Homo sapiens: one gene and its partners. The protein of the gene in region 3 interacts with the protein of the main gene of each other region in a biochemical or structural test. Each region holds a gene or a part of one and is shown on either strand. Other genes may lie near its edges. The genes, in order: PACSIN3, DYRK1A, DNM1 and CLINT1.

Evidence for each region.
Region 1: the proteins of DNM1 (region 3) and PACSIN3 form a complex in vitro, tested with the Homo sapiens proteins (one study listed by BioGRID).
Region 2: the proteins of DNM1 (region 3) and DYRK1A form a complex in vitro, tested with the Homo sapiens proteins (one study listed by BioGRID).
Region 4: the proteins of DNM1 (region 3) and CLINT1 form a complex in vitro, tested with the Homo sapiens proteins (one study listed by BioGRID).

What each region holds. Positions count from the first base shown.
Region 1 is NC_000011.10:47,177,022-47,183,469, forward strand, and holds the end of PACSIN3 (protein kinase C and casein kinase substrate in neurons protein 3), read right to left. Parts: intron 6,049-6,448; 5' UTR 5,983-6,048; intron 5,789-5,982; exon of another isoform or gene 5,782-5,788; coding exon of another isoform or gene 5,707-5,781; coding exon 5,653-5,706; intron 5,539-5,652; coding exon 5,382-5,538; intron 3,670-5,381; coding exon 3,434-3,669; intron 3,321-3,433; coding exon 3,165-3,320; intron 2,717-3,164; exon of another isoform or gene 2,590-2,716; intron 2,566-2,589; coding exon 2,390-2,565; intron 2,259-2,389; coding exon 2,138-2,258; intron 2,010-2,137; coding exon 1,873-2,009; intron 1,467-1,872; coding exon 1,345-1,466; intron 1,026-1,344; coding exon 910-1,025; 3' UTR 501-909; downstream 1-500.
Region 2 is NC_000021.9:37,488,754-37,495,788, reverse strand, and holds part of DYRK1A (dual specificity tyrosine-phosphorylation-regulated kinase 1A), read right to left. Parts: intron 6,238-7,035; exon of another isoform or gene 6,165-6,237; intron 5,843-6,164; exon of another isoform or gene 5,744-5,842; intron 5,615-5,743; coding exon 5,328-5,614; intron 2,773-5,327; coding exon 2,626-2,772; intron 1-2,625. UniProt on the Homo sapiens protein: Dual-specificity kinase which possesses both serine/threonine and tyrosine kinase activities. Exhibits a substrate preference for proline at position P+1 and arginine at position P-3.
Region 3 is NC_000009.12:128,248,379-128,255,378, reverse strand, and holds the end of DNM1 (dynamin-1), read right to left. Parts: intron 6,797-7,000; coding exon 6,626-6,796; intron 5,265-6,625; coding exon 5,023-5,264; intron 4,655-5,022; coding exon 4,439-4,654; intron 2,279-4,438; coding exon of another isoform or gene 2,257-2,278; exon of another isoform or gene 2,242-2,256; intron 1,371-2,241; coding exon of another isoform or gene 1,301-1,370; exon of another isoform or gene 726-1,300; coding exon 665-725; 3' UTR 135-664; downstream 1-134. UniProt on the Homo sapiens protein: Catalyzes the hydrolysis of GTP and utilizes this energy to mediate vesicle scission and participates in many forms of endocytosis, such as clathrin-mediated endocytosis or synaptic vesicle endocytosis as well as rapid endocytosis (RE).
Region 4 is NC_000005.10:157,849,129-157,856,163, forward strand, and holds part of CLINT1 (clathrin interactor 1), read right to left. Parts: intron 1-7,035. UniProt on the Homo sapiens protein: Binds to membranes enriched in phosphatidylinositol 4,5-bisphosphate (PtdIns(4,5)P2). May have a role in transport via clathrin-coated vesicles from the trans-Golgi network to endosomes. Stimulates clathrin assembly.

The DNA of each region.
Region 1 (6,448 bases), on a different chromosome or scaffold from region 3:
CGACGACAACCGCGGCCGCAAGAATCAACGCCGCGCCGGGCCAATCCGCAGCCGGGGCGGGGCGACGGCGCGCGGACCGGCCCAAACCTCCTCGCGCGCGTAGTACCCTTCCCCCCGCCCCTCCCACGCCGCAACCCCCAGGTGGAGTCGCCCCCACGCCGCGCAGGCTGCGGGAGGCTGGGGGCGGGGACCCCCACTCCAGCTAATTACAGATCGATGAATAAGGATTAGGCTGCCCAAACACTCCTCGTCCCTCCGGCCCGAACGGGCAGACGCATTGGCCCGCGTCTCGCCCAGCCTTCAGCCGTTCTCGGTTAACAGCAAGCCTGACAGCGAGTCCCCTCCACTCCAGATTAGTATCTCGAAGTTCCAGAGCAGGTACCAAGCAGGCAAACCCTTTTCCAACCCCGGCCCCATAACAGACGCTAGGCCTCTCTCTAGATGCCCTCTGGTGGCCTGGCAAGGGTGTCCTATCAAAAAAATGCACATGAGCCCGACAGTGGTGTTTTTGTTTTTGTGTGTGGGTGTGTGTCAAGTTTTAATACACGCTAGAACAAGCCACAAGAGGGTGCTGCTAGGCCAGAACTACACTCACCCCAAGCCCACCCCAGGAACCCCAAAGCAGAGGTCAGGAACTGAGTCCACAGCTCCTGGGGAGGCCCAGGCACCCCTGAACGCTTCTGTCACCTCTGACCTCCCATCTTGCCCTCAGCCTAGACTCGTCCCTTCCCTACCAGTCCCTTCCCTAGACAAAGGCCCCTCCCCTCCCTGGGTCCCAGGACTTCCTCCCTCAAGGGACAGAGGAGCAGCCAGAGAGCGACGGTTCAGGGCCCTGAGGGTCCGGCTCTCCAGGAGAAGCTGGGCTCTGAACCAGGGTGGGTAAACGTTGCAGAAGGGCTGTCAGGACACTCAGGCGCCCACACACTCCACGTAGTTGGCAGGGTACAGGCCAATGCGGCCACTCTGCAACTGGCCTTGGCACCAGCCCTGCTCGTCCTCCTCACTCATCTTCAGCAGCTCCTCCCCTGGGGGAAAGGGGATTGGTCACTGCCAGTGGCCCTGGCCCAGGCCCTGTTCCTGCAACTGGGTCAAGGACTGAGGGGGATGGTGTGGTCCCAGAGCCCAGCTAGCAAAGACATGGCTCAGGCAGAGGCAGGTCAAGGTCAGCAAGCTGCCCCACCCCAGACCCTGAATGCAGCCACCAGGCACCAGCTATCTGGACCTGGAACAGCTGAAGGGACAGAGGACTGGCCCTTAAGAAGTGGGTATTTGGCTTCCCTTTCTGACACCCCTGCTCAGGCAGATAAGGCAGAGGCTGAAGCTAGGAAAGGGGTCCCAGGGTACCTGCTCGGAAGCTCAGCTCATCAGCTTCCTGGCCAGCGTAGTCATAGAGTGCCCTCACCCGAACCCCGGTGGCAGCCTTCCGGGGACTCTCTTCATCTGACCACTCCTCATCCTGCCCCGTGCTGGAGAGGGGAGGCAAAGGGAGCAGCTCAGAGTGCAAGGAACACGGGGCTGGAGATCTCACCCAGGATCAGGGCAAAGGCCTCCCTACCCCCAGAGGCACCTGGGAGAGTCAGGTGAGGTACTAAAGATTCTAGCTCTACCTCGCCATGCCCGACTGTGAGCAAAGAGGCAATTCCTGCCACACGCAGCTGATTTAAGGCATAAACGAGAGGGAATGTGGGAAATGCCCAGCAAATCTAAACCACTATGAGAACCAGTATCATTACAACTACTAAGTAGGCCCTCAGGTCCCTGGCACCAATTTTCAACCCATTTCAGGTGTGAAAGAAATGAAACCAAGGAGAAAGGAAAGGAGGGCGGGAGGCAGAGCTGTTTCTTTGCCACAGCCGCGCTCCTGGCTCTCACCCTGGGGACCCCGGGGACTGGGGTGGGGGTGCGGTGCCATCTCTTGTAGGCACAATGCTGGTCAGGGTAACCTCATCAGGGCTCCGGCCACCCTTCTCTTTCCGGCTGATTGTCCTCTGTGTGTCCAAGGACCACTCCTGTGGGGACAGTGCTTATAGTCAGGTGGGGCCATCTGAACCACCTTCACTTACTTCATCCCTAGCCCTGGCCGAGCTGAGTGGGAGCCCATCCCACCTCCCATCCCCACCCCGCCTGGAACACATGCCTCGAACTGTGGCCAGTTCATGGCCATGCCTGGCCCGTGGGTGCTGCGCCACCAGCGCAGATCCTCTTCGTCACTGGCTGCCTCAATGCCCTGGTGCAAGTCACGGTGGAGTTCATGGAACCTATGACCCAAGGCACACCCCTCAGTCTAGGAAGTCTAGACCCTGCATCCCTCAGTCCCAGCCAGGGCCTCGGGGAGATGGAGGAGACCCAGTACTACCCCAGATCTCCATGCCCACCAGGCAGTTCATACTTCTCACTGCTGGAAAGGTCCAGGTGCTGGTGTAAGGTGAGCAGCATATCCTTGAAGAAAAGAAGCCGCTGGCGCTCGGCGGCCTGGCAGGTCTCAAAGGCCTGTTCCATGTCCTCCATGTAGCGTGGAGTGTAGCGATGCAGCTCTGCCAGCGTCTGCTCATACTGAGCTTTTGTCTGGGTGGGAGAGGAGGGGCCTGGTGAGAACCAGACCTTCTTCCACCCAGGACTCCACCAGTGTTTACCAGACACTGCCATAGGCTGCTAGACCCAGGGCTAGCCACTAGGGGCAATCAGTCCCAAGACCCAGCTCCTGCCCTCAAGGACCCCAGCAGCCTAACAAGGGAGGTGACATCAGGCACAGCATATAAAAGAGTCTGGTGAGGATTGAAATGAGGTCAACCTACAGGAAAGGATGGGAGAAATCAGAAAAGGCTTCCTGGAGGAGGTGGAAACTGCAGCATCTCAGGATGGGGAGGATTTGCATATCCAGAGCTGCAGGAAAGGACACTTCGGGCAAAGGGTACTGTGCAAGGAAAAGAGCTGGAAGTTCTCAACTGCTGAAGTCATCCCAGTGCCTGAAACTCCATTTCTTTCCCTAGTAAAGCATCACCTTTTGTCAGGTTCCTCCTTTAAATGATCATCTGGAGAGAGGGTGGCAGGTGAGGAATAGGGTAATAAGGGTGCTGGGGACTGGACAAGATGTTCAGGGAGCAAGATTCATTCAGGAAGCCGTGCCCTGGGCGGGGGCCAGGGCTGGGACCTGTGGCCTGTACCTTCTCGGCCTCCTTGGCACAGCGTTCCACCCGTTCCTGCAGTTTGCGCAGCTGCTCCTGGGAGACGGCGCTGTCTGCCTTTGCGTGGCTCTCCCTCGTCTGGGCGGTCTTCTCATCCTTCCGGGCTGCGTGGTAGCTTTTCTTGGAAGCCTCAACCTGGCATGCATGGAGACCACTCTGGACCCTGGATGCCACACCTTGGCCCCCTCGATCCCTTGCAAACAAACAGGAAGGAGCCTGTCTCGGATACCTCCCCCACCCAGCCTCACCTCCTTCAGCCTCTTCAGCCAGGGCTTCTGGGCCTTGCGGAAGCCGTCCTCGGCCGCCCGGCTCTCGCGGAAGCCGCCCAGCACAGGCCGGTGGAAAGCCCCCCGCTGCCAGGCGCGCACCCGCTCACTGTCCTGCCCTTGCAGCTTCTCCCGCACCTCCAGGTGCAGCGCGCTCAGCCGCTCAGCCGCCGTGAAAAAGGCATGCCAGGCCTTCTCCAGTGTGCCATACTGGGGGCCTGCAGGGAGGGACAGGGCTTAGGCCAGGCCTGGGTACCACCCAAAATGAGCCTAGCCCCTCTCACTGGGTGTGAGGCATGGAGGCATGGGGTACGCGCATGGGGTGCAAAGGTGAATGACAACCCTGTCAGCTGGGCTTATTGAATGAGGACCATGTGCCTTATCTCACTGACTCCTTGTCTCAGCCACCATCGTGAGGACAGCGACATTGCCAACATTGAACAGGCAAAACACTGAGGACCAGAGATGTGAACTCGCCCAAAGCATTATGGCTACAACAGGAGCTGAGGGCCGGGCACAGTGGCTCACTCCTGTAATCCCAGCACTTTGGGAGGCCAAGGCGGGTGGATCACAAGGTCAGGAGATCGAGACCATCCTGGCTAACACGGTGAAACCCTGTCTCTACTAAAACTACAAAAAATTAGCCGGGCATGGTGGCGGGCGCCTGTAGTCCCAGCTACTTGGGAGGCTGAGACAGGAAAATCACTTGAACCCGAGAGGGGGAGACTGCAGTGAGCTGAGATCACGCCGCTGTACTCCAGCCTAGGTGACAGAGCGAGACTCTATCTCAAAAAAAAAGAAAAAAAAGAGGAGCTGAGATTCAAACCCATCTCTGTTGTGTAAACACTACACTCCATTGCCTCAAAGGAAGAGCCTGTGTGTGCCCTCGAGGAAGACAGCTTGCAGGGTGGAAAGATCCATGCTCCCAGTCAGAGGGCCTGGGCTCAACCTTCAGCACTTCCTAGCTGTGTGCCTTTAGGCAAGTCCCTTAGCCTCTCTGAGCTTCCAGTTTCTCCTCTAGAAAATGCATAAAACAGGCCCAGGTGCGGTGGCTCATGCCTGTAATCCAGGCCGGGCACGGTGGCTCACGCCTGTAATCTCAGCACTTTGGGAGGCCAAGGAGAAAGGACCGCTAGAGCCCAGGGGTTCAAAACCAGTCTGAGCAACATAGCAAAACCCTATCTCTACAAAAAATACAAAAATTAGCCAAGTGTGGTGGTCCATGCCTGTGATCCCAGCTATTGTGGTCCCAGCTATTCAGGAGGCTGAGGTGGGAGGATCAGTTGAGCGTGGGAGAGGGAGAGGTTGCAGTGATCCATGATTGTACCACTGCACTCCAGCCTGGTGACAGAGTGAGACCCTGTCTCAAAATAAATAAATAATAAACAAAGGAAAGAAGGCCAGATGCAGTGGCTCACGCCTGTAATCCCAGCACTTGGGGAGGCTGAGGTGGGTGGATTACCTGAGGTCAGGAGTTTGAGACCAGCCTGGCCAACATGGTAAAACCCCGTCTTTACTAAAAATACAAAATTAGCCAGGCGTGGTGGTGGGTGCCTGTAATCCCAGCTACTTGGGAGGCTGAAGCAGGAGAACCACTTGAGAGGCGGAGGTTGCAGTGAGCCAACATCATGTCACTGCACTCCAGCATGGGCAACAAGTGCAAAACGTCTCAAAAAAAAAAAAAAAAGAAAGGAAAGAAAATGGGTAAAACAACCATCTCCACAGGGTTGTTGCAACTATCAAAGTAACTCATGAGCATCCTTTATAAACTTTAATAACACCACAGCCATGAGGATGACCAGGAGGATCTTCCCTTTCTAAGGGAGGGTAGACGTGGAGGCCTCAAACTTCCCACGAGACGTGCAAAAAGAAGCTGGCCCGACAGTCCTGCACTCAGCTGCCCTCTGCCCCCTGCGAGGGCCTGGCTCACCCTTCTCCACGGTCCCCCTCCACTTTCGGGCCCAGTCAGCCAACTGCTGGGCATAAGCCTTCTCGATGCGGGCGCGCTCCTGGAAGCAGCTGACCAGGTCCCCGCACAGCCGGTGCCCGTCCTCCACCCGCTGTACCGTGCGCCTGTAGTTGCCAGCCTGGGCATACAGGAAAAGGGTGCCATCACCAGGGAGAAGCTTCCTTTGGGGCTGGGGCTGTCAGATGGGCTCCTCCCCTAGACAAGTAGCTGAGCCCAGGACCCAGCTGCTCACCTCCCAGAAACTGCCCCCTAAGGCCTCCCCTCCAGCGTCCTCTTCTGGAGCCATGGTGTCCCCGCAGCACGGAATGGTGGCGGATTTGGGGCTGTGGAGGGCAGAGGGGTAAGCAGGAAAGCTGGACATTATGTTTCTGGGGATAGGAAAAGACCCTCTCTATACCTGGGCCTCGCCCCACTGCCATCCCCACCACCCAAGGAGTCATCAGAGCTAGGACTTAGCAGGCAGGGTGCTGAAGACCCTAAGAAGGGCCAGGATGGGTGAGGATGGAGTCTCAAAGCTCTTCCTCTCACTGCTCTGCACTTCCCCCCCCGCCCCCCCACATACCTGGGGCCTAGAGATCACTTCAAGGACCCGGGTGTCCAACTCTCAATGCTGCCACCGTGACTCTGCCTTGAAGGAGAACAGAGCGGGGGTGAGGGTGGGGGCCTAGAGCGTCCAGGGCGGTGCCCGGCACCCCCAATATAGCAACTGCTGTCAGAAGCGCCGGATTCCAGGGAGGAGAATGCCAGGCAGGTCACACGATCCAGCCAGGGATTAAATGGCAGGCGGGGGTGGGCGGTGGGCAGAAGGCCCCACTCCCCCAACTGCCGATGAGAGGACTCCTGCCCAGGCTAGGGCCTCTGTTGCCTTCCCTTGAGTGACAAGACAACCCTGTTACCCGAGAGGCCAAGTCAGAGGGTGCCTGGCCACATCCCAGTAGCTCCCTGTACTGAGGAGGGCACGAAGGGAACCAAGAGGCCTGGCTTCTGTGTTGGCCAGGAAGCCCGAACAAGTGTATGTAACTGTCTCC
Region 2 (7,035 bases), on a different chromosome or scaffold from region 3:
TGAGACAGGGTCTCTGTCACCCAGGCTGGAGTACAGTGGTGCACTCAGAGCTCACTGCAGCCTTGACCTCCTCCCAGGCTCAAGTGATCCTCTCACCTCAGCTTCCTGAGTAGCTGGGACTACAGGCATGTACCACCATGCCCGGCTATTTGTTTTTTAGATGGAGTCTCGCTCTGTCACCCAAGCTGAAGTGCGGTGGCGCAATCTCGGCTCACTGCAACCTCCACCTCCCAGGTTCAGGCAATTCTCCTGCCTCAGCCTCCTGAGTAACTGGGACTACAGGCATATTTTTCAGTAGAGACAGGGTTTCACCATGTTGGTCAGACTGGTCTTAAACTCTTGACCTCAAATGATCTGTCCACCTTGGCCTCCCAAAGTGCTGGGATTACAGGTGTGAGCCACCGTGCCCGGCCCCATGCCCAGCTAATTTTTAAAAGTTTTTGTGGAGATGGGGTTTTACCATGTTGCCTATGCTAGTCTCAAACTCCTGGGATAAAGCAATCCTCCCACCTTGACCTCCCAAAGTGCTGGGATTACAGGCGTGAGGTACGGCACCCAACCCAGTTTTCAGAGCATGTTAAATAACCACACACACACACACACACACACACACACACACACACACACACACACACAAAATCCCAGAGGCTTAATAAAGTATGGACCTAATAAAGTACTTTTTTAAGTACTTTAAATGAGTGTGCCTATTATATGCTAGGAACCATATTCAGTGGTAGAAAATAATAAACAAAACATAAAAATTCCTGCCAAAAAGAAGTTTATGTTATAGTGGGAAGACAGCAAATACATATACACACAAACACACAATTTTTTTTTTTTTTTAATGGAGTCTTGTTCTGTCTCCCAAGCTAGAGGGCAGTGGCGTGATCTCGGCTCACTGCAAGCTCTGCCTCCTGGGTTCAAGCCATTCTCCTGCCTCAGCCTCCCAAGTAACTGGGATTACAGGCACGCAACACCACACTAGGCTAATTTTTCTATTTTTAGTAGAGACGGGGTTTCACCATATTGGCAGGGCCAGTCTCGAACTCCTGACCTCAAGTGATCTGCCTGCTTCAGCCTCCCAAAGTGCTGCGACTACAGGTGTGAGCCACTGCGCCCGGCATTATCAATAAATAATTAAATACATGATGTCAGATGCTGGCTAAGAACTATGGGATGAGGAGAAGGGGTACTGCAACCGTAAGTGGGGTATATGGTTTCACCGAGAATGTGACATCAGAGCAAACACTAACATCAGCAAAGGAGTATCTCAGAAAAGAGCATTTTAGGCACAGGAAGGAAGAAATACAAAGGGCTATGGGCCTGTAGCTGGCGTTTTCAAGGGACCACAGAGTGAGGGGAGAAGGAGAGACCAGGTGGTGGTGAGAGAACTGGCATCAGAGGAAGTAGGAATCTGTGGGTTACTCAAAGGACCTCGGCCTTTACAATGAGTAACATGGCAAAGTTTTTTTAATATTGTTTAAGCCCAAGAAAGATACTAATTTACACAGTAAGATTTATACTAAAAAAAAAAACAAACTATGACAGTTACTATAAAAGAGTAGCTCACCAGTTCAAGTTGAAATGAATTAAAAGGGGCTGGGCACAGTGGCTCACGCCTGTAATCTCAGCACTTTGGGAGGCTGAGACGGGCAGACCACTTGAGGTCAGGAGTTCGAGAGCAGCCTGGCCAACATGGTGAAACATCAACTCTAGTAAAAATCCAAATATTAGCCAGGCATAGTGGCGCTTGCCTGTAATTCCAGCTACTCGGGAGCCAAGATTGCCCCACTATACTCCAGCCTGAGTGACAGAGCAAGACTCCATCTCCGGGAAAAAAAAAAAAAAAAAAAAAGAAGAATTAAAAGGAAGGATGGAAGAAACAAGTTTCTGACACCACCTATTAACAGCTGTGTAATCCGGTACAAGTCATTAATGCCTTTGGCCTTTCTCTTCTCATTTATAAATAGACTGATCAAGACGTGCAAATTGTCAATTTTTCTTTTAAAAAACAAACAAAACCCCACAGGTGTAGTTTTTAAAACAATGAAAGTCTAATTTCTCTGACTGCAGGGAAGTTAAGGCCTGTCCCTGCCCTCCCATTCACTGCCTCTGACCTTGAAAAATCTTCCAGAACACAGACTGAAAACCTGTAGACTTCAGAACTGCACACAGTCTCTGTAGCCCTACAAGTCTATAATCTCGTTTACTCTACATTATTCAGACTGAGTATCCATCAGTCCTACTGATCATTACTCTTCAACTCCAAATCATAATCTCAAAATTTAGAGTGATGTTTGTATCACTCTTCAGGATGGCCTTCATTCTTTATCATCTTTAAGCTTTCTGTATTGTATTTAAAACCTGTAAAATGTATGCCAAAATACTTAACACTTTCTAACTGTTCTCCTTCATGAGTAGATTAAAATATCCTACTCCTATCTCATAATTCTAAACTTACATGACAACTGACAAATATGAAAAATAGGTATATTCAAACTGACCTCACATTTGAATGATTAAGTAGACATCTTTGCCTAAAAACAACTTTTAAATTACACTGTCACAGATGAAAGACAAAAAGAAATTATGAAAACAGAATTTGTAAAGCAATACATCATTTACCTCATTGGCACCACTGAACAGAGGTTCTCCAGTGTGCATTTCAACCAAAATACACCCGAGGGACCACATATCAATGGCAAGGTCATAAGGCATTCCCAGTAGCACCTCTGGAGACCGATAAAAGCGACTCTGAATATACTGGTATATCTGAAATATATTTCAAAATAGTATTACTTCAATTGCTTAAAACTGCAGTCAGCATTGGATTAAAAACATTGATCTGATATTAACAGAAAAGAATTGGCTAATTCCTGAATTAGGGTTCCATTGATTAACTTCAACATTAGACTACGAATACGGCTTAAAGAACTAAACATTTTGAGGGATTGGTTAATCTGACTGTGAAATGCATAATACGTAAAGATTCAAGCCCTTTCATTTAGTCTAATCCTACCTAGTCATCATGATATTTCTTAAAACAATTATGCCTCACTAGGAAAAAAAAAACACTATTGAAAGCAATGTATTTCCCTAATAATTATTTCTTCCTACTATGGCTGGCACTTAGTTTACCACTAACTTTACAACTAAATAGTATTTAAATTAACCCAAACAATGTATTTCTCAGCGTTAAAAGTCAAGTAACTTCAATATAATATAATTTAAAATTCAGATATTTGTACTCTTGCTGTCTCACAGATAAATCCCAGAAACACTGCCACATAAAGATTCAATTGAGAGCTGTCTCTGACCAATAGCTTCTTCTCTCATCTTCTCTCTCTACCTCCATCCAAGACTTCTTATAGAAAGACAATCCTGAAATGGACTATTTTCAATGAAGTAATGTTAGGATGTCTTCAGAGACCAATTTGTTTCACTTATTAAAAGTGGAAAAGAAATAAAATCCTAACTAAATTTCCTAACACCCAAACCATGCAGCCAGAAAGCTCATGAAATTTTCTGTGGTTCCCACTGAAACCTCCAGCCAAGTCTTCGAGAACAATCTCAGGCCTCCACAGGTAGGTCAACCAACCTTAAGGAACTATGAGAAGAAAGTCTAATTTAAAAGAACTGGGAAGAAGTATTACATTTCCATGGTTTTTATAAGCCAATACCATTGTTAACTCCCTAGGCCCAAACACTCACCACTCCTGAGACTTTTATTTCACAGCTTATGCCAAGAACTTTGTCACCTCCCTATCTAATTTGTTTAAAGCAGTTGCTTTCCCCAAAACACACTTGCCCTACCACCTTCTGATTCTAATCCAACAGATCTAGGGGCAGGACCACTGCAGGTCTATTTTAGAAATAACTTCCCATGTGATGCCAATGAACTTGAATAGTTAAAAACTTATTGTAGGGATAACTGGCTCATTTTGGCTAGACAGAAATAATAATGTTTAATATTAGGACAAAATACATAATTTGGCTTAAATAGGGGGAAATTTTCCCAACTCTATAATCTATTCAAATTACTGTCAAGATGGGCATGTATTTTTCATTCACAATATACTCTACCACATATTAACTACGAGCATCTCTTGATTTTTTGAAGGCATCTAAAACTGCAAACTTTGCTCCCTACTCCAATTTTTAAAAATTACTTTAACATTTGATAGCCTCACTACCATGAGAAGTTGCAGAAAATAACAAAAAGACAGTCCTATTAATTGGCTATAAATCCTTATGATTAAATTAATCTGTTATAGTTAAAACCTGGACAAAAGTAGGACGGGACAGAAAATTTCACTAATTTGGAAAAATAAGAAACAGAAAAGTCAGTAAGAAAAATTAACATCTGTATGTTAGCCGGGTTTCTTTAAAACAGAAGAAATATAGTTTCAATACTTAAAGCAAAAAGAATAGTGCTTAAAATGAGTAAAATATTATCAAATGGTGACACTAATTCCTTTCAAGAGGAGACCCCTATCACTTCTATTTTATACATAAAACAATGCTGTTAGAGTAGTTTTCATAATGCTGGAAGAATGACAGGAAAAAACTGCTTTCCTAAATCAGCTAAACTTATCAGCACTACGAACACATCTGTTTTTAGCAGTCTGAAAAAAACCAGCTTGGATATGTGTCAGAATTTATGTAAATTTTAAATAAGAGTGGGGAAAATAAGACAAACTTATTTATCAAAACAAGTAAGTCTATCAACTGAATTTTCTATACTTATACCATGACTAATGCAAAATTACCTGCATTTTTTTGAACCATCAGTTTTTGAGAAAAAAGATTTATCTTGATCCATCTTCAGAGAAGTATTTTACAGCAAAGATTCAATGTTCTAGTACTGGAAAGTCCCAAAATTTATACTAAAACCTTTACTTGGGAAATATAGTTACAAATCCCCTAATATTTAATCATTCCATCTCCTATTCTCTCCCTTAATCTTTTAGCATACATACAATTTTAAATATACCCATTTCAAAAAAATCAATGTCTTTTGACTCAAAGTATTGCTATTTGCATTTTAAAAGGTATTTCCCCAAAATAGATATCAACACAAGGTAATTAAGTGCTACATTTTAAAGATAAATAAGCATCCTGTAATTGCCTCTAAATGGTATACACCTTATTAACATTTCAAATATCTATTAGGTTGGCGCAAAAGTAATTGCGGTTTTTGCCACTGCAAAAACAGCAACTGCAATGGCGAAAACCGCAATTACTTTTGCGCCAACCTAATACCTACACTGTCCTACCTACTTCTATTTAATTTCTATTTAATTCACAAGTTCTGAAATAATACTTACCCTCTGCCCCAACTGACAAGAACTGCCAAAGTCAACTATCTTGATTGCACTGCGTTTGGGGTTACAAAGAAGGATATTTTCAGGTTTTAGATCACAGTGAATGATACTAAGTTCTGGAGTCGCAAGGAAAAGCAGTGCAGTGCACATCTGTTGCGCAAACTTTCGTGTTAGGTTCAAAGAGACCCCTCGGAAATTGGTGTTTCTCAGCAAGTCATAGAGGTTGTAGGACAGCATTTCAAAAACTAAACAGAGATGGTTTCGAAACATAAAGTGGCGTTTCAAATGCACTGAAAGAGAAAACAGTTTCATTTTAAATTATATATACCAATAAACTGAGAGTAACAAACACATGCACTCTCAAATGTTCTATAACATTATTACATCAAATGCAGAGTTCAGTTAAAGTTTGGAGATCAGCATTTTGTAATAACAGCAGTTTTCAATCAGTTAAGAATATCTAAGTTGCTCTTCTGCTGAATTAAACAGGTACAGCATATGTCGGTAAGTGATATAAGGTAAGCAGTGCTACCAAAATGCCTTGTTTCTCTAAAAGTCAGATCTGAAAACATAAGGACCAAATGGACAAACAGCAGTGAGAATATTTCAGCAATTTTATCTTCATTTATAAAAGAAAGCACTTTTTACTTCCCGAGAGCCCTACCTCACAACTTCCTATGTCTAAGCTCCACCTACTGGGATCTCTGGTTTGTGACAATGCTGTAGTTGGCAGCCCTCTGTGTAGGCTTTGAAATGTATCTGCACTGCTGAACTTTAGATTTCACTGGTAATTTTCTGTCACAATTTTCATTGATAGCCTTTTTTTTTTTTACCCTTTAGGCAAATACAACAAATGTCTGAAAATCATGCTTTGGTAAAAGTATTGGAGGACTTAACTGTGTTTATCAAATTGGTAAGTGACAACTCTTGTGTGAGACTGAAGGTTTGGAAAACTTCAAAATAAAGCTCAGCTACAAGAAGAGATGATAAGGAGGCTTGTGAGTGGGGAAACAGCATAGAATACATAGGTCGCTATCACTGTTGACCCTCTAAAAAGGCTGAATACTCACTAAATTGCCTCAAAGATTGTGCTTTAACTATTAACACTGACGTCACATCAGATGAGGTTATTCGATAAAGTGCTGTCCCTCCCTGTTAAGTCTTATATATACCAAACTGAGCACCTGTAACACAACTGCAATGACATAAAACACCCATCTGTCAAGGTGATTTTCATTTTATCTTATAGTATTACAAAATGAGAGGTTTCTCTACAGATCTATCTGGAATAAACTGATAGTAATCAATGTCTGATCACTAAGAACTGTGGATACATTGTGTTTTCCTGGGAATAGTCCTGGGCTGCCTGCCTCAAAGCAGTGAACATCAATATTGCTTTTAGATCTTTCATGGTATAGGTGATCTAAAGTTAGAATAAGTAACACAATAAAAATAACTACATGGCTATATAGGAGTCTACAGCACAACTCGATACTAAAAATAACAAAAGGAATCCTTAAATGTTACCTAAGAATGTAAAATATCTGCTCTTAGTCACTTCAGTTTATAGGTTTAAAACTAAAAACATAGTTCCATGATACCTCACAATCATGGTCTGTGGATGGCTTTTAATCTCCTGGTTAAGCAGGTGCCACTAAATGAATGCAAAAAGTAACTGCTGTCAGAATTCTAATGTGATTATAAAAATTCC
Region 3 (7,000 bases):
CTCCAGGGGCTTTCCAGGAAAAATGTCCCTTGGAAAAGATGTGGTCTTTTCACCACCCCCAGCAGCACCCTAGTAATGGCTTAGCCCTTCCCCTCCCCTGAGCTCCAGAGAGAACACAACCAGCAGAGGAGACATTCCCCATCATCCAGAAATGGGTTTTATTCTCAGCCGAGGGACAGCAGGACTGGTAGAAACTGTCAGGCCACACGGCTGCCTGCACAGCACCCCCATGCTTGGTAGGGGGTGGGAGGGATGGCGGGGGCTGGCTGTCCACAGGCCGGGCATGACAAGGAGGCTCACTGGAGGTGGCACACTTTGGAGTGGGATGTCGGGGGACAGCGTTCTCTGGTAGTTGGGCCACAAGACTCCACAAGGATAGCACAGTGACTGATTCCCAGCGCTAGAGGCGAGGCGGTTGGCCATGTGTAGGTGTGTATATATATGAGTATTTATAGATATTTATAGAACAGGGCAAGGGCATACCACAGAAGGGGCACAAGTTTTCACCAACGGTCACACCTGAATGTATCAGCTCACCACTACAACAGATTAAGTCACAGATGAAGGGGGCTGGCTTTGGGGCTGGGGGAGCCACTGTCAAGTCACAGAACAGCCGTCCAGGCAGGCTTGGAAAGGGAGGTCTCCGAGAAGAGGAGGGATCTGTTTAGAGGTCGAAGGGGGGCCTGGGGCTCTCAGGACGGGATGGACTTGCCTGACCCGATCGGCTGGCAGTTGGAGAGAAAGCAGAGAGAAAACGGGAGAGAAAAGCGAGGAGAGAGCTGGTAAGGCAAGCGCAGCACACGGCCGGGGCCGGCCGCGCCGCAGCAGTGGTGGGAGGGCCGGGGAGGGGAGGCTGCAGGTGTGGGTGTGGCAAGGTTCCTGGAAAAGGGGCTGGAAGGGAAAGGGGAGGAAGATGGAGGGAGGAGCCGTAGCTTCACAGATAGCGCCTGGGGGCTGTGGCGGCCCTCCCCACCCCACACACGCTGGCCTCTCACACGGCACCCAGGCAGGGCACCCGCAATTCAGGCTGATGCTCGGCCCCCTCGGGCTTCCCTCTTCTCTGGTCACCCTGTCTTCCAACCCACTGGCCTGGGGCCACCCCTTGCCTTGGGGAGCCCCATGCAACAGCCACCAGGCCTGATAGAGAAAGAACACTGCTTGAACCAGGAGGGTGAAACTAAAAGGGATGGCTGGAGGGAGCGCCGGAGGCCCCTCTGGGTGTTCAGAAAACCCAGGACCCTCTGAAGGGACCCTGGGGGAGGCAGGGAGGGCAGGCAGCCGGATGCCAGTGGCCATAGACTTATAAGTCTAAGAGGGGAGCCTCAGCTGGTCGGGGGGCTGCAGGTCTCGTAGGTGAGGCTGGGCCCTTCCTGCTGGGAAAAGCAGAAGAGCGAGAGTCAGTGGCAGGAGAATGGGGGGTGGGCTCACTGGGCGGAGCTCAGCTGGGCCAGCAGGCACGGTCGTCCCCTTGGCTGAATGGCACAAGTGACCCTAGGAGCAACAGGCCAAGGTGCGTGAGCCCGCTGGCTGGCTACGGTGCTTCAGCTGGGGCCAGGGACACTGCCTTCAGTCACACTAGCAGCTATGACGGTACCTGGGAGGGAGGGAAGGGGGCTGTGTGTCCCTGCCTGGCCTGTGAGGTATGTCGTGGGATGACCGTGTGTATGGGACTCTCAAGCTTTTACCCTAGGTCACCACTGGATTGCCGGCAGATAGAGGAGGTGGGACCCTGACTCTCACCCCTGCTCTACGGTGGATTTGGCTCTCAGCACTCCCAGGCTGGGAGCTGGATGCCCTACCCAGGGAGCATGACTCAGACTGCACACCACGCACGGTGTGCCCAGGATAACGTTCCTAGGCCTCTGGCCGCCTCAGAGTCCAGCCCCACACACGACCCCCTCCAAGCTCCCAGCCTTTACACCATAAACCACGAGCTCTCTGCCCTCTCTGACGGCTCCAGAGAGCACCCATGTCTGCCAGCTTGGGCGCGGAGCCTGTTCCAAGAGCCTCCAGGCTCAGCCATGGAGGCCTTGGGCAGTGGCACTGAGTCCCGAGGCTCGCAGGGAAGGGAGGTGAGAGAGCCAGCGGCACAAGGACAGAAAGAGGAAAGAGCAAGTCTGCAGCTGCAGAAGGGAGGGGCGGGGAGCCTGGCTCTGAGGTCCCAGGTGCGCGCCCCGTGTGGAGCTAGTGCAGCGGGGCAGACACACCGTTCATGCAGCAGGCGGTGAGGCATGTACCTACCATGGCTGACGCTCCTCAGGGGTCACTGATAGTGATTCTGAAAGACAGCACGAAATCAACATGGCAGTTCACACGCACGGGTGGGGCCGGCCTGGGGGTGGGGGACACACACACGCACACGCCCGGGCGTGCACACACATGCTGTGAGGCCCCATGGCCCACATGCACACGCTAACACACATGCCCACAAACAACACGCATACGCCTCCTTCCCCGCCACCTCCCAGTGCCCAGCACCCTCACTGGCCGGCGGCGCGTGCAGCATGGATCTGGGGCATGCAGCCACTCAGCACACTGAAGCACACGTGTGGGCAGAGTCACAACACAGAAGCTCACCCGCACACAGAGGCATTTGCACCAGCTCCCTGCACACTCGTGCCTGGTGTGCTTAGAGGATCACCCGTGCTGCTCATGGAGATAGGGCTTGCTCGCTAAAGTCCAGCTGTCATTTCTCCACCTAAGAGCCTTCTGTGGTTCCCTACTGCCCACAGCATTGAGCCCCAACAAGTCAAACTTTTCAGACTTTGAAGGTTCTCCACCTTGCGCCCCACCCTGCCCACAGAGCTCTTCCTCATTCTGTCTCTGTTCTCTGCTTTGTCCAGTGGCTGTCCTCGTTGCAGCCCACACTACACCTCTGCCCACACTGCAGCTCTTGGCCCAGATACCCTCCTGATTCCTTGCCACGTAAGCCTATCTCAGCCATGCCTCAGACTGCACTGAAGTCAGGTTGCCTTGAAGAAGCTCTCCCAGACTGCTCTTTTCCCCAAGGTAGGGTCATGATTTGCCAAATGTTTCATGTGTGTTAGCAAGACTGGAGTTGGGGCAGGCATCAAACCTTACATCACAGATCTCACACCGCACCATAGACCTGGGTGCCAAATACCCTGAAGAATCTGAACTCACGTTGGCAGTTAGCAAAGTGCTCCTACGGCTGCATCTGCAGTTAACACAGCATCCCTATAGCCACTGTCTCCCTCGATCCCCACAACCGCCCTGGGAAAAAGGCAGAATGTCATCATTTGATAGAAGGGATGCTGAGGCTCTGGGAGGGAAAGAGACGTGTCTAAAGGCCCAGGGTGAAGCAGCATCTCTGGACTCCCAGTCCAGTCCTCTTGCCCAATACCATGCTGCTTGCCTCTACGCATCTGCTTTGGTCATCAGAGCATCATAGGGCAAGCCCCAATCCCTGCCTCATTTTGGTTTATGGGTGCTAGACCGACAGCCCTACCCTCCAGCCATGCAGAAACAAAACAGATGCTATTGTTCTGCTGTGTTCTTCCTTAGAGAATGTGGCCAGTGGAAACAGGGCAGACTGGGAATTGGAGTGAACTTCCTTGAAAGAGAGTCATGGGTCAAGAAGGTCAAGCCAAAGGATGTAGTAGAAAGCTTTTCCCTAGAAATCTTTGGGAATGAAGCAGGCTTCAAGCACTCCCATCCCTGCCCCTGCCGCCACCCCTACCACATTGGTTTAGACTGGGTAGGGCCAGAAGTCGCGGAGGGGGTGGTTGGGGGGAGGAAAAAAGCCATCAGTTTGCCCACGGCCCAGGCTGCTTCCCCAGCTGCTCCTGTCCTAGCCCGGGCCTGGGTGCCATGCTTACACTCTCACACTCGTGTGCACGCCCACACACACATCACACACCTTTCTAGTCACACAGTCACAGCCTGGCCTCTGCTCCTGTGGGCCAGTGGCTGGACACCCCCTGGGATGGCTCAAAGGAGTCAGGGCTGGGAAGTGGGGACATCAGGGTAGCTGAAGGAAATCCACACACTCAGAGCAGATCGGGGTTCAGAGTCAGACCTAAGGTAGGCTCCCCAGGGGCTGGGAGAGGAATTGGACGGAATGGAGGATGGAGGACAGCAAGAAGAAGAAAGGAGGAGGAATGCAACGTGTGGGCGGCCGCCAAGAGTGAAAATAGAGGGAAGCGCCATGCAAGTGCTGGAAAGAAGGGGGCAGGTGGGACGAGCCCCACAGCCCCCTCCCCAGAAACGACCACCTCCGGGACTCAGCGCTCCCTCGGGGGCAGGCTCCGCCAGCCCTCGGCCACACGTGGCGTGGCTCCGGCACCCAGAGTCCGATTGCCTGGGATAGAAACGGCCGGTTCTGGCGGCCAGGTCCGATGCTCTGGAATCCAGCCCCATTTCCCTCCCGGCCACGCCCGTCCGGCAGCCTCTCCAGCCGCATTCAGCCCCTACTCACCTGGGGACCCCGGGCGGGGCGCGGTTGGGGCGCGAGGGCACCTGAGGGGGAGGGCCGAAAGGGTCAGGGGAAGCCCCCGGCCTGGAGGGCACGGGGGGCGCCCCCCCCAGGGCGGACCCAGCAGGCGGAGGCCCAGGAGCAGGGCCCCGCGACCCGGGCCGGGCTGGGGGCACGGCGGGGGCTCGGCGCTGCGGCGTGGGGCTGGACGTGGGCGACCTGAGGGCGACAGGGAGCGAGGAACAAGGAGAGGCGAGATGAGCAGCTCCGCCCACCCAGAGGCCCCGCCCCAGCCCAGTGCTGGCCACGCCCATGCACGCAAGCCCCTCCCTGCCGCACCCCTAAGGCGGTCGCCGGAGCTTAAGCCCCGCCCCCAGCGGCGCCAACGCCCCAGCTCCACCCAGCCTTGCAGCCAGCTCTCCACGGCAAGCCCCGCCCCGCGACAAGCCCCGCCCTCTCTAAGCTCCGCCCCTCGCTCCAGGTGGGAGCCACCCCGGTGACGCGGGCGCGCCACTGCCCGGTCCCGGCATTCCTCCCGCGGGCCCCGGGCTGGGGGGCTTTGGGGCCGTGGGGGCCGGCCCTGGTACCTGCGTCCGGCCGGTACGCTCTGCACCTGCAGCCAGGAGTCGTCCACGGGCGGGGGCATGGGCGTGCTGACGGTGGTCGTGTTGATGTCGCCGATGATGCTGAGCGCCTCCTTCAGTGCGTGGTACATGCGCAGCATCTCGTCGCGCCGCTGTGCCTGCTCCGCCGACTCCTCCATCAGCGTGTTCTGGTCCCCACACGAGTACAGGTTGGCCAGCAGCTCCGAGAAGATGAACTCCTTGGTCTGCGAGTAGGCAAAGAGGGAAGGAGGTGGGGACCTGATGCCTGTGCCGCCCTGGCCGCCCCACCGGGCCCTGCTGGGACTGTGAGCTGGTGTGGCTTTTCAGACGCGGCTCCTACACTGCGTAGACTGGAAGATTCACCTCCCCACCGCGCTTTTCTCACTCAGATGAGGACACTGAGGTCCACAGGAAAAGTCATCTGACCAAGGTCACAGAACCGGGAGGGGACTTAGGACCTATCATGCCACCAGAACTCTTGTCTACTCAGTTGTTTTTTTTTTTCTTCTTCCTGGAGATAGGGTCTCGCTCTTTCACCAGGCTGGAGTACAGTGGGGAGATTACCACTCACTGTAGCCTCAACCTCCTGGGCTCAAAGTTATCTTCCAATGTCAGCCTCTCCAGTAGCTAGGACTACAGGCACGTGCTACCACCAACCCCAGCTATTCTTTTTTTTTTTTTTGAGACGGAGTTTCACTCTTGTTACCCACGCTGGAGTGTAATGGCACAATCTCAGCTCACCGCAACCTCCGCCTCCCGGGTTCAAGCAATTCTCCTGCCTCAGCCTCCTGAGTAGCTGGGATTACAGGCATGTGCCACCACGCCCGGCTAATTTTGTATTTTTAATAGAGATGGGGTTTCTCCATGTTGGTCAGGCTGGTCTCAAAATCCCAACTTCAGGTGATCTGCGCACCTCGGCCTCCCAAAGTGCTGGGATTACAGGCATGAACTACCGCGCCCGGCCAACCCCCGCTATTCTTTAAAATTTTTGTGTAGAGACAAAGTCTCACTGTGTTGCCCAAGCTGGTCTTGAACTCCTGGGCTCAAGTGATCCTCCTGCCTTGTCCTCCCAAAGTGCTGGGATTACAGGCATGAGCCACCGTGCACAGCCCCTCATTATATTTCTTCTTCTTTTTTTTTTTTTTTGAGATGGAGTCTCGCTCTGTCGGCCAGGCTGGAGTGCAGTGGCAGGATCTCGGTTCACTGCAACCTCCGCCTCCTGGGTTCAAGTGATTCTCCTGCCTCAGCCTCCCGAGTAGCTGCAATTACAGGCTCACGCTACCACACCTGGCTAATTGTTCTATTTTTAGTAGAGATGGGGTTTCACCATGTTGGCCAGGCTGGTCTTAAACTCCTGACCTCACGTGATCCACCTGCCTTGGCCTCCCAAAGTGCTGGGATTACAGGTGTGAGCCACCGCGCCCAGCCCCTCATGATATTTCTATTGGACAGCTCTGGTCTGGACCGTGCCTCCCTCCCTGGACCTGGTCCCATAGGGCTGGTTGGCATCTCCCCCAGGCCAACATGGCCACCTGCATCCCCAGTGCCACAGGATTTCCCTGCCCCCATGCAGTGGAGCACGCACATTGTTAATCATGAGGTGCATGATGGTCTTGGGCATGAGGTCCCTCACGGTCTTGTTGACAATGGCCATGTATGAGTCCACAAGATTCCGGATGGTCTCCACTTGCCGTTCCAGCTGTGGGTCCATGGAATGCATGAAGCTGTCGGAGCCATTCTCCTCGGTCTCGCTGGCCTGCCATGGAGAACACAAGGGCATCAGGTGGCCAGGCCATGCAGCCAGGCTCCAGGCATCCCCAGGATCTCAGCCCCTCCAAGGGTACCCAGAATATTGAGGCACAGAGAGAAGCGACTGGCCTGAATACATACCTGGCTCCGCATCCCTGTGCCTCTCAGGACCCTAGACTCCCCTGATTCAGCCTTGTCTTGGTTCTGACTC
Region 4 (7,035 bases), on a different chromosome or scaffold from region 3:
GGTAAAATGCTATCGAGCAGCATTGCATGCTACAGAGAAATCATCTGTGAAAGGAAGAATCTATGATGCAGAAAACTTCATTGTTATTTTAAGAAATTGCCACAGCCACCCCAAACTTCAGCAATCCCACAACCCTGATAAGTCAGCAGCCATCAACATGGAGGCAAGATTTTCCACCAGCAGAATGATAAATACCTGCTGAAAGCTCAGATGGCTGTACTTTTTAGCAATAAGATATTTTTAAATTAAGGTATGTACTTTTTTAAACATAATACCATTGTGCATTTAATAGACTACCACATAGTGGAAACATAACTTTTATATGAACTGGGAAACTAAAAATTTGTATGACTTGCTTTATTCCAATATTCACTTTATTGCAGTGGTTTGGAACTAAACCTGTAATATCTCTGAGGTATGCCTGTATAACAATTTTTTTGTTTACATGATGTCTTGTAAAAGATTAGCATAAACTGCTAAATACATATTCTGAAAGTATATCATCTAGATTTAAATCTAGACTATCTTCTAGATGTGCTATCTGTGGCACACTCTTGGCATTCTGTGCCCAATTTCCTCATAAGAAAATTGAACATAACAATGTTGTCACCTTTGTTCTTGGCACATGGCAAATGCTCAATAACTATTAGCTTTTATTATTAGAAATATCTGGATTTAAAGGATATCCTCTGTAATAAATATCAACTTACCAAATTTAATGTATTCATTCAAAAATATTTGAGCGCCTACTATGTGTCATAATTGTTCTAAGAGTTAGTAATACAGCAGTAAACAAAACAAAGTTCCTGCCCTCAAGGAACTTGCATATCAGAGGCAGGAGATGAATACATGTAACAGAGGAAGGCAAGCACAGAAAAAAATAGTGACGAGTGTGAGTGCATACTATGTAATACAGGAGGTCCACTGAACAGAACAGAGAAAGTGAGGGACAGTGGTGGGAGAAGAGATCACAGGCGGGGCAACAAAGAGCCAGATCTGTACAGGCAATTAAGCAATGAGATGAGAAGCCACTGGAGAATTCTGAACCCATTTGACTTAGTATTTTTAAAGAATCCCTCTCGCTGCTGAGTGGACAGCAGATGACAGGGCTAAACATTTTACATGCTTAGTGAGAAACAGGCCATCCTTCAAAGCCCCATTCAGTACCGAACTTATAAGCCAAATACATCAAACTAAGGATATTACTGGCTGGGCACAGTGGCTCACGCCTATAATCCTAGCACTTTGGGAGGCTTGAGGCGGGCGGATTGCCTGAGCTCAAGAGTTTGAGCCCAGCCTGGGGAGCATGATGAAACCCTATCTCTACAAAAAATTAGCCGGGCATGGTGGTAAGCACCTGTAGTCCCTCTTACTTGGGGGACTAAGGTGGGAGGATGGATTGAGCCCAGGAGGTCAAGGCTGCAGTGAGTCAAGATCGTGCATGCCACTGCGCTCCAGCCTGGGTACAAGTGAGACCCTGTCTCAAAAAAAAAAAAAAAAAAAAAAAAAAATTATTTAACCATGGGGGTTTAACTACAAATTAAGACATGTAGTTTCAACCGTATAACCTAAGTCACTTTAAAAAGTGATAAATGAAAAATTAGTATGAGAAAAATTAATAGAAAAAGGCTCAGTATGCCTATTAGCATTGTTCTTTTTTTTAATATTAAAAAAAATTTTTTTAGAGACAAAGTTTCACTCTGTTGCCCAGGCTAGAGTGCAGTGGCACAATCACAGCTCACTGCAGCTTTCAACTCCTGGGTTCAAGTGATCCTCCCATTTCAGCCTCCCATGTAGCTGGGACTATAGGCATGCATCACCATGTCCGGCTAATTTTTTAATTTTTTTGTAGAGACAAGGTCTGTGTTGCCCAGGCTAGTCTTGGACTACTGGGCTCAAGAGATCTTCCCTTCTCGGCCTCCCAAAGTGTTGGGATTACAGTTGTGAGCCACGGCACCTGGCCTTGCACTGTTCTTTAATGATTTACTAAAAATGCATGAAAACAAATGGCAAACAAACAAACAAACAAAAAACCCGAAAATTGAATTTTCAATGCATGCCTTTTTTCTACTATAAAAATATAAGCTATTTGAATGAGAATTCTTGAATGAAACATTTCATTCAATAGTTGTTGAAAAAGCACGCATGTACGTTTACCACATAATGATGAGTGTGTGCAAAATTATAAAAGATTATTTATATTAAAGTTATCTAGAACTTAAATACTGTCCTAAGAATTGAGAAGCTAAATAAAATTCATGTCAAAACAAATATTCTAGGCCAGGCACAGTGGCTCACACCTGCAATTCCAGCATTTTGGGAGGCCACGGTGGGTAGATTGCTTGAGCTCAGGAGTTCGAGACCAGCCTGGGAAATGCGGCAAAACTCCATTTCTACCAAAATACAAAAATTAGCTGGGTGTTGTGACATGTGTCTGTCGTCCCAGCTACTTGGGAGGATCGCTTAAGCTACTTGGGAGGATCGCTTAAACCTAGGAGGCTGAAGCAGAGATGGCACCATTACACTCCAGCCTGAGTGACAGAGCAAGACCCCGTCTCAAAAAAAAAAAAAAAAAAGAAATGAAATATTCTAAAATTGGCTAACTAGACTCTTCTTAAATGAAGTACAAACCATTCATGTGCACTGTTGCACATTAACAAAATCACTCACATTTAATAATTCGTTAGCTAAATCTATCCACAAGTAATAAGTAGCTATAAATTGGCTCAAACATAGGAATATATTACGTTCCTTTACCTGTATTTAATTTTCAGGCAAAAGAGCCCTGGTAAGCCAAATAATTTCTTGCCAATTTGAGGGGTTGAATAACCAGAAAGCCCTTTCTCCAATGTGCTTTCCTTGTATATACTGTTTGTCCATTGTCAAACACCATGAATTTGGTATCACATATTTTAGAGGATTCTTTTTCTTGATATTGTTCAGTCTCTTAAGAATAAATTGTCTGCTTCAATTTGCATTTATGAAATAAATCTTTTTATGTTTTAGTAATGTTTTACATTAGCAGTTACTTTAAAATCTTGAGAATACACAAAACAAGCTGAACAAAATATTAAGAATTGGCAGATGGAATTCGCGATATGTCTTTCCAAAGACTTTATTCCTCAACATGTCTTTTGAAAGGGTATTTCTGCAATATGCTTTGCAATATTAAAGTAGAAGCCATTTATGATTTAGCAAAAATAATACAAGGCATAAACAACAGAGGTATTTAAATTAGCTGTCCTATATGTAGGCTAAACTGAGTCTTAAGAGAGAGTACTCACTGAAAATAATGATTTCATGGATGAAGATATAGTTCCTACATACTTACAAATAACCTAGTCTGACAATGATATCTCTATTTTCACAAACACTGTATTCCTTTGATTTTTCTAGTGTTATACTGTTTTGTGTGTAACAGTAATAACAGTAATAGATGTTTCAAGAGTTTACTGTATGTCAAGTACTATACTGTTTCACATTTAATCCTCATAATCCTATAAAATATCATCTCTATTTTACAGAGAAATAAAGATACCATTCTAACACATAAGATCACCGTTTCTAGTAGCAGACCTAAGATTTCAATCCAGTTCTCACCTCTGAACCACTAGCTATTCCCACATTTATTAAACACCATCTGGAGGCACCTAAGTATAGTGGCAAAGTATATTTGGCTAGCAAATTATTATAAAAATACATAGATGGACAAACACACATAATTAAGCTAAACAAGGAAAGCTCACATGAAGCGTTAACCTGAAAAACACAGAAGAGTAAACAGTAAAATATGTTGTCACCAAAGGTAGCTGAGACTAAAAAGTTAACTGTATATAAGAACCTTCAAAAGTACTAAAAATGTACTTTGAATCTGTGAAGTGATCTTCATTAAAACAAACATTGGAAACAAGTAGGAAAATAATATAAGCATACAAAAGGCCAGAGGCAATGGCTCATGCCTGTAATCCCAGCCCTTTGGGAGGCTAAGGCAGGCAGATCACATGAAGTCAGGAGTTCGAGACCAGCCTGGCCAAAGTGATGAAACCCCGTCTCTACAAAAATTAGCTGGGCATGGTGGCACATGCCTGTAATCCCAGCTACTTGGGTGGCTAAGGCAGGAGACTCGCTGGAACCTGGGAGGCAGAGGCCAGTCGCAGTGAGTTGAGATCACACCATGGCACTCCAGCCTGGGAGACAGAGCAAGACTCCATCTCAAGAAAGAAAGAAAAAAAAAAAAGTCCAGAAAAAGACTCAACTGTAGAGCCATATTGTGAAACCTTGGATTACTAGCAAATGGCACTCAAAATAAAAAAGGCTAAGTACTTTCAATGGACATATCAGTAAACAGATGAAAAACTGCTTTGTAGGCCGGGCACGGAGGCTCACGCCTGTAATCCCAGCACTTTGGGAGTCTGAGGCAGGTGGATCACCTGAGGTCAAGAGTTCAAGACCAGCCTGGCCAACATGACGAAATCTCGTCTCTACTAAAATTACAAAAATTAGCCGGGCATGGTGGCACGTGCCTGTAATCCCAGCTACTCAGGAGGCTGAAGCAAGAGAATTGCTTGAACCCAGGAGGCAGAGGTTGCAGTGAGCCAATATCGCACCATTGCACTCCAGCCTGGGCAACGAGAGCGAGACACCATCTCAAAAAAAAAAAAAAAAAAAAAAAAAGAAAAACTGCTTGTAAACTAATACTAAAGTGTGCAAGAAAACATAAGAGGCAGTTAAGTGCTTTTTAAAAGCACCCTGACAGTAGTACTAAATAGATTAAACTACAGAAAATTACCCCTAAGAAATGCTAGCAGAGATAAACCAAACTCATCTTTCTTTGGAATTAAATTCCTAATATCTACTTGTGTCCAGTTACTAGAAAAGGAGGAGAATAATTAATTCATTGTTTCAGCAATAACAATTACTTATAATCGGTTCAAAGAAAAGTTGACATGGGAAGACTAGAAAGCTGACAACTATCTTACTATCTCTGCTTTCAAATTCCAAGAAGCAAACTGAACAGAGATTTACTGGTAAGATAAAGAAAATAAAGGGGATGATATCTGAAGACTGAAAGAAAAGAAAAGAAAAATAATCCATTCAAGTTGTAGCATATTTGTAGTGGCAAGGTTCTTGAAGGCAGGTATTGTATGTTTCGAGTTCAGAAAATAGAGTACTAGACCAGGCGCAATGGCTCCCGCCTGTAATCCCTGCGCTTCAGGATGCTGAGGCAGGCAGACTGCCTGAGCCCAGGAGTTCAAGACTAGCCTGGGCAACATAGCAAGAACCCTTCTCCACAAAAAAATTTTTTAAAATTAGCCACGCATGGAGGCGCAGCTGTGGTCCCAGCTGCAGTGTGCATGTTTGCATCACTGTGCTCCAGCCTGGACAACTGAGTGTGACCCTGTCTCAAAAATAAAAAATAAAAAGAAACCAGACTACTAATCCAATAAATAACAAATGTATTGCCTGTTAAAATAAATGAATATACTATTCTTTATAAAAGCAAAAGTTTCTCCCTCTGGAGTCAGGAGACTAGAACAGCAGTTTCTACAGCTCTATTACATTATCTAAACATTTAGGAACTAAAACCAAGCAAATATACATCAATAAAAATCAACTTATGAGGGAAAATGCAAGCTATGCTTAGGAGAATAACTTAAAATGGACTACCCATAGCTGTTGCCTTAGGACCTTAGCCAGAGCTGTTTGAATCACTATCAAAAAAAGGGCCACTGAGGCTGGGCAAGGTGGCTCATGCCTGTAATCCCAGCACTTTGGGAGGCCGAGGTGGGTGGATCACCTGAGGTCACAAGTTTGAGACCAGCCTGGCCAACACAGCAAAACCTCAGCTGTATGAAAAATACAAAAATTAGCCAGGCATGGAGGTAGACGCCTGTAATCCCAGCTACTCGGGAGGCTGAGGCAGGAGAATCATTTGAACCCGGGAGGTAGAGATTGCAGTGGGCTGAAATCACGCCATTGCACTTCAGCCTGGGGGATAAAGTGAACTGTCTCCGAAAAAAAAAAAAGGCGGGGGGGGGGGCGGGTCACTGATGAAAGAGATTTACCACTAATATTACTCCTTGCAAGGAAAGAGAAGGATTCGCTGAGCTTGAACAAATAAGTAGCAGTTTTGATCTACCACTACCATGTCACCTTCATTACATTCCTCAAATCTAGAGAGAAAATAGAACTGCAGCAACTTTCAATTTTACCATGTATAGGATGACAAAATATAAACATGTCCAATTTTATTACAGCCACAAGTAAAGATAGGTCATAGGATGACAATGATTAAGCTAGTGCTCCTAGTTGGTGGGAATGGTGCCACTTATCCTTTCCTGCCACATCGCCTTTTATGCAACTTGACGAGTGGGAAGATACTGGCATTCCAAGCTCTGGCAGGCCTATGGCTTTATCTGCTTCCCTCAGTTCCACAATGTTCTGCAAAACAAATCCCTCTACTGCCACCAGGAGGTGCAGCGATTGTGGAAAATATACCCCCACTTCCAGAAAAAGTCTTCAAGGTCTCAAAAGCCAGTGTTTGAAATACATCATTATCACTTTGAGTAGCTGAGATGGGTGGATCACCTGAGGTCAGGAGTTCAAGACCAGCCTGGCCAACATGGCGAAACCCCGTGTCTACTAAAAATACACAGATTAGCTGGGTGTGGTGGCAGGCACCTGTAATTCCAGCTACTAGGGAGGCTGAGGCAGGAGACTCGCTTGAACCCCAGAAGTGTAAGCTGCAGTGAGCTGAGATCTCGCCACTGCACTTCAGCCCCGGGAACAAGAGCGAAACCCCATCTCAAAAAAAAAAAAGAAATACATCATTACACTTAAGAGCCGCTACCATACTGAATCTAAGAGTGGCTCCAGGAAACACATTTTTCAGAGTACATTTCTTTTTCTGAAGTAAAACCTCACTGGGTATCAATATACACTAAAAGTCCTAGTCTTCCTGAGTCATGGTCTTATTTATTGCATAAAATATTTAAGTATAACATTTATTGATTACCACTTTTTAAGAAAATTTCC